Regions from separate parts of the Homo sapiens genome. Here region 2 is linked to region 1. Evidence: fine-mapped expression QTL. A gene starts in region 1. The other region holds a variant in brackets. All regions are shown on one strand. Distances are from middle to middle.

Region 1 (2,911 bases):
CACAAAACAGTCATGAGTGATTCTGCTGTTTTTAATAAAGGTTAAGTACTGCTAAGTTTAGAGAATTTGGGGTGACGAGACAGGCAAGGTTTCAACAGGCAAAGCAGCAGAATTAGGGCACAGGGCAGAGCTGGGTGGGTCTCATCACACATCTAATCCTCGATGACAGCACAAAGCCACCTCTCCTTGTGCTTAAGTGTACACGCACATTGATTGAAAATGCACTAAAATCCAACTCATCCACCAAGCAAGGCTAAAGGCGCGCACACAAATTCAACAGCGCTGCGTTCGCGTGGCTGGAGGGCAGACGGGGAATATTCCATTTTACTTAGTAGAGTATCAACACCTAGCTGCAGGGTTAAACCTGCTTAACAAAAGCTGGCGAGGGGCTGGAGAGGTGCACACCATCAGCCCTCTCCCGAGCGCCGACCGGCCTCGCCCTGCCTCTGCGCTGCACCCTGGGTGCAGGCGGACTGGGGCAGGGCCGCGACCCCGGCCTCGGCCTCCGCCTCCGCCCGGCCAGCCCCGACGCGGTGCCACGGGACAGACCCGCAGGGGCCACCCCACACCCCTGCGGGCCGGCCCCCCGCCCCGGTCCCGGACGCTAGCTTGGGAAGGCAGGCCGGGGGCCCAGCCATCGATGGCAAGTGGGCGGCGCGGCCTCCGCAGACAAAGCTGGGCGCCCCATCGAACAGGACCCTCCGCCCCACGCGCCCGCAACCGGCCAGCCCCGGAGCCCTGCCCGCACTGCCACCCCCAGCCCGGCGCCCGGCCCCCAGCCCCCGGTGCTCGGCTCCCGGCCGGCGGAGACCTGCCCGCCGCGCCCGGAGCGCCCGCGCAACCGCCGCCGCCGGAGCGCGCAGGCCGCCCAACCGCCGTCCCGGCCCAACCAACGCGGGCAGGGGAGGAGAGGTGCGCGCGGCCGGCGGAGCGTGCGAGCCACTCGGGGGTCGCAGGGGGAGGCTGCGCGCGGCGAAGGCAGGGGCGACGAGACGCCGAGGCCGGCGCTGAACGCGGCGCCAGGAGGGCCTGCTGGAGGGGGCCTTGCCCTCTTCCCCTTGGAAGGTGCAGATGGTTTGACCCCCCACCCCGAGTGAGGTGCCTCGTCCCAGCCCCGGCTGGACTGTACCATCGGGCGGTGCCGCCGGGATTTCTCCCCCCCACCACCACCATCAATTCCCCCCCCACCCGGGTCCGCGGTCGGTTGGCCCCGGCCGGGCTCTGAGACGCGGAAAGAGCTGGGCGCCATTTTGGGTGGGACTAAGCAAAGACGAAACACCCTCCCAGTCTATGGGGTAGTCTGGACCCTGGCTTATCTGGTTCCCTTAATCCTTTAGGTACTTACACGACGTTGGGTGAGGGGAGCTGGAAGATCAGCGGGTCCCCGATCCTCTCTCCCTAGGGGTGATAGAAATCAACCCCCCCCGCCACCTCCAGGTGGTTCTTCCCGCCGCAGAGTGGGAGCAGCATAAAAGGCGGGGTCTTATTAGCATAATCTGCCTGGCAACCTGATCTCGACGTTATATGATTGGTTAAACTCTGTAAGCCCCATGCCGTGCCTAGAGACGAGAAACGCTGGGGCGAACTGACAGGCCCAGATTTAGGAGTCATGACGAAGATCCTGAGACGCTTATTCAGTCTGCAGAGAAGCCAAAAGGAGATTCACATAATGGCCCAATGACTGAAGGCCTCTTTATTTCGTGCTCTGCTGTTCGTGTAAAACCCAATCGCAGAGCGGGTCTCAGGCGGCGCTCGCCTGCGTTTCTACTCTCAGCCAATCAGAAAACCCGACTCTTCGCATTGGGGTCAAGCCCCCGCTGCGGCCCGCGTGCTAACGGGGAGGAAGCTTCCAGCTGTGCCTGGGTGTCTCGGGCGCCGAGGGCAGCCTGCGCCCGTGCTAAGCCCGCCTCCCGCGCGCCCGAGGGCCCGGTGTCCCGGAAGACGCGCGGGGGTGAGGCGGCCCTCGCGTCCGCCCGCCCCGCCACAGATTGCCTCCGAAGTGGCCTGGCCGTGGAGCGCCGGCGAAAACCGAACTCCCGCCCGGCTCCCGGAGTCGGGAGCCTGCCGGGGTCTCGCCCTCAGGACCCCCAGGGAGCGGCCGGGCGCCGCCTATCACCCTGACCCACCGCACCTTGAGAGCGCTTTCACTGCGCCTCTTTTTTCTCCTCTACCAATCTGGAAAGGAAGTGAGTGTCATTTCAGACATTGAGAAACATTATTCAACACTGGTTACCCAGTGACTCAGCTCACTCCTTAACCGCAGGCTTCCACATCCTGCTGTCCCTTAAAATTGCCTTCACAAAGGGCAGCCAAGAGCCCAGCTTTGGAGAGATACCCAGCTCCAACTACCCACTGGCAGGCAATACGCAGGGCAGCTAGATGGCAGAGAGACCTTGGACCTTCGGACCTTCGGGGAGCGGTTTTCCCTTCGGTGATATCTACCTTGCTATGTTCGTGATATCTACCTTGCTACGTTATTTTGAAGATTAAGTGAGCTCTTACTTTACCGAGTAAAGTGCTTTGCTTAGCACACTGTCTGGAACTTAAATGAGAAGTACTGACAATATAACTTACAAAAATCCTAAACTATTGCCTGAGAAAAAGAGGGAGACAGGACAGCTAAGCAAAAGACGAGAATAGAAAACACCCACAGCGTGAAAAACTGTAAAATTAACTCAATAGTATTCTCTTTACTGTTTTTTGTTTTGTTTTGTTGTTTTGTTTTTTGATACGGAGTCTCGCTCTGTTGCCCAGGCTGGAGTGCAGTGGTGAGATCTGGGCTCATTGCAACCTCTGCCTCCCGGGTTCAAGCGATTCTCCTGCCTCAGCCTCTCTAGTAGCTGAGATTACAGGCATGCACCACCACGCCCGGCTAATTTTTGTATTTTCAGTAGAGATGGGGTTTCCCCAT
Region 2 (2,911 bases), 73 kb before region 1:
CAATCACAGCTCACTGCAGCCTCGACTTCCCAGACTCAGAGGATTCTCTCATCTCAGCCTCCTGAGTAGCTGAGACTACAGGTGCCTGCCACCATGTCCACCTATTTTTTTGTATTTTTTTTTAGTAGAGACAGGGTTTCACCACGTTGCCCAGGTTGGTCTCGAACTCCTGGGCTCAAGCAATCCACCTGCCTCAGCCTCCCAAAGTGCCGAGATTATAGGTGTGAGACACTATGCCTGGCAGTTTTGGGGTCTTTTAAACAACTTTCCTTTGGACAATTTTCTGCCCACTTTGAAAGCCTTTGGTTGGCCAGCCCTGCCCAACTCGGCTCACTCTGCACCATCCTTCCACTGCACCCCTGCTAGGGCCAGGCTCATGTCTGCACTGTCCCAACCACAGCAAGAACCTCCTGTGTCTGGGCCTCTGATCCTATGGCTATCATTCTCTGAAACAGTCTACCTTCCTCCTCTCTTTCAAGGGCTAGTCTAAGTCTCACCTTATCCAAGAATTATCCTGACTCCTCTATTTTACTTCAACCTTTCACTCTTCCAAGTTATACTTTTACATTTAACACCTAACTGTAAACTCCCCTACATTAGTATTGATTTCCTACTTAGACTGCAAGCTCAAGTGAAAATTCTATTGTGTACCTAGCATAGTGCCAAATAGACAGTTAGAACTCAACACTATTGCATAAGTCATTCCAATGGTTTTAGCGCTGGAAGGGACCTTGGAGATCACTTAGTCCTACCCTTCATTTTGTATATGAGGAACCTGCAGCCCACAATTTATTCCTTGATCTATTTACAAATAAATTATCATTATTCATTAATTTGCATTTACTGTAGCAACCAAACTGTGGTTTCCACCAGGATTTAGTAAGTACAGGTTGCAAAGAACAGCAGGTCAGGCAAACAAGTAACATTCTGTTATGTGAAACACAGGAAACAAACCTACCTGCAGCTCCAACTGAGCAGGCAGCATTAGAGGAGAGAAAAATAGTTACATTACCAATTGGATTGGAAGACTTCCCTTCAGTTGGTCATTACCAATCTGGATA[G/C]AAAAGATGAAAAAATACATAGCCCTACTTTTTAGAATGTGTGAGAGAAAAAAAAACAAAATAGCTCAACTAAGACTGACCTCCAAAAGCCAGATACATATGGCTTTCGCTTTGACACAAGGAACCTTGCACCAAAACCAGTAACCCTGCTCATTCAAAAATGCAAGTACAATTACGGCTGGACTGTGTTTGTGCATCCACAACTTCACTGCATGTGTGGGCTTCGGTTTTTTTTTTTCCTTCCAAAAAAAAAAAAAAAATCTAGCAAGGGTTTCTCTGGACTTAGTAAAAAAAATCAGAATGGCCAAAGCAGAAAATATAGTAATTGAGCAAGAGAAAGAAGTGCAGATTAGGAACTAAAGGAGAAGGATGGATGGGATATTACTTCATAGCTTGTTTTCCTTGCTGGCCTGTATTTCTGTATGTTGATATACTCTTGTGAAATAATATACAGTGAGCTGAGAGTTTCATATGTTTCGATTACAGGGCTCTCATAAAGGCTGTTTAGCCTCAGTTCTTAGAGCCCTTCAAAGCTATCATATGACTACAAATGTTTAAATGTGTTTTTACATGAAGGCATGGACTAGACTATTTTTCAAGGTCCCTTCTAGCCTAGAGGCAAATAAGAAGACCAAAAGAAACATACGCTGAACGATCATGCATGTAGAAATTGTAAAGCCTGGGAAGTTATACAAAATGTCTCTTTCATCTACTGGAAAGTACCAATATGTCTTTATGCACTCAGCTGCCATAAACATGGGTTGTAAGTCATTGGTTTTTATCAGCACAGACACTTATCCCACAAAGCCATATTGTTTTCCACACGAATCCCCTGCAGTTCCTAACTCAGAGTCAAATGCTATTTGTGAAATAATAAGAGAAAACGCATCTGAACTGCAAGTCAGGAAAGCCCTGCAGCCGCATGGTCTGAGGCCAAGACACAGGTCCCGTGACTCAGACACTGACTAACTCTCGAACTGACAGCTTTGGCTCAAGCTATCCGCAGGTGTGTGAACTGTACCTGCCATATCAACTTGGACACAGGTCACTTTACATTGATGAGTAATGACATTTGCCATTCTCCCCTGGGAAGCTGTAGATAAGCACATTTAGTTACCCAAAATCAACTTGAGAGCTATGATTAGGCACAAATTAGCCTGGTTTAAAATATAAATGATTATTATAACTAAATGTACTTATTTCTCCACTTCCAATCTGTGAATTGAGGGATGCAGAGAGCTAGTCCAGGAGCTGCCAACCTCTAGGCCTCTGTGTCGTCACTAAATTGGTCAAATCTAGGACCAGCCATGCCAGCCTGCCATGGGACACAGAGACATTGAGAAATAGTGAACACTTTCTTTCAAAATAAGGGGATCGAGCATGTGACAGGCTAGATGCAAGATTTCAGAGAGGAAGGTGAATAGGTTAGAAAACCACCAGAGAGCTGGTGGTGGGAGGAAGATGAGCGGCTGGTGCCAGGAGCCGCCGGCTTTCCCCACTTACTCGGATGCGCTTGGCTCTGCGCATGTCGTCGGCTGTCAGCGTGCTCTGGGTGGGCACCACGCTCTCTTCATGCTGCGGCTGCAGGTGCAGGGTGTGAGTTTCTGGTTCATGTTCCAGGGAAGACTGGGTTTCCTGTGGCAGCTGAGGGATTGGGATAGTGGTCTGTTCTGGTTGATCCAGCCCATTCAGAGTGGCTGGTTCAGCCTCATCAAATTGCTCCTTTGTGGGAAAATGTAGCAAGTCCTGAAATTTGCAATAACCAGGAATAGAGATCAGTGCCGGAGGGACTGTCAGCTCAGATTTAGAATTGCTGCTTATTTCAGAATGACTAGATTCATAATACTCAG

Which allele goes with the higher level. Alleles are on the strand shown, and positions count from the first base shown. SD is a standard deviation of normalised expression in the study named.
With allele G in place of C in region 2, the expression in skeletal muscle of the gene that starts at base 1,459 in region 1 is higher (large effect, 0.89 SD a copy in GTEx).

What was found. PIP is the estimated chance that this variant, and not a neighbour inherited with it, causes the effect.
Region 2: its variant is fine-mapped to the expression of PRDM10 in skeletal muscle (GTEx, PIP above 0.99).

The regions. Positions count from the first base shown.
Region 1 is chr11:130,001,377-130,004,287 of GRCh38, forward strand. It overlaps PRDM10 (PR/SET domain 10), which reads right to left and starts at 1,459. Exons shown (of 21, transcript NM_199437.2): 1 at 1,346-1,459. It overlaps PRDM10-DT (PRDM10 divergent transcript), which reads left to right and starts at 1,248. Exons shown (of 1, transcript NR_024233.1): 1 at 1,248-2,911. RefSeq lists silencers at 493-672, 703-752, 763-1,082, 1,793-2,182 and an enhancer at 1,593-1,682.
Region 2 is chr11:129,928,452-129,931,362 of GRCh38, forward strand. PRDM10 (PR/SET domain 10) reads right to left here. Exons shown (of 21, transcript NM_199437.2): 11 at 2,565-2,807. Among named protein-coding and RNA genes, the nearest start is that of NFRKB, 34 kb to the left of the region's middle. The variant G/C (reference allele first, on the strand shown) is at 1,062.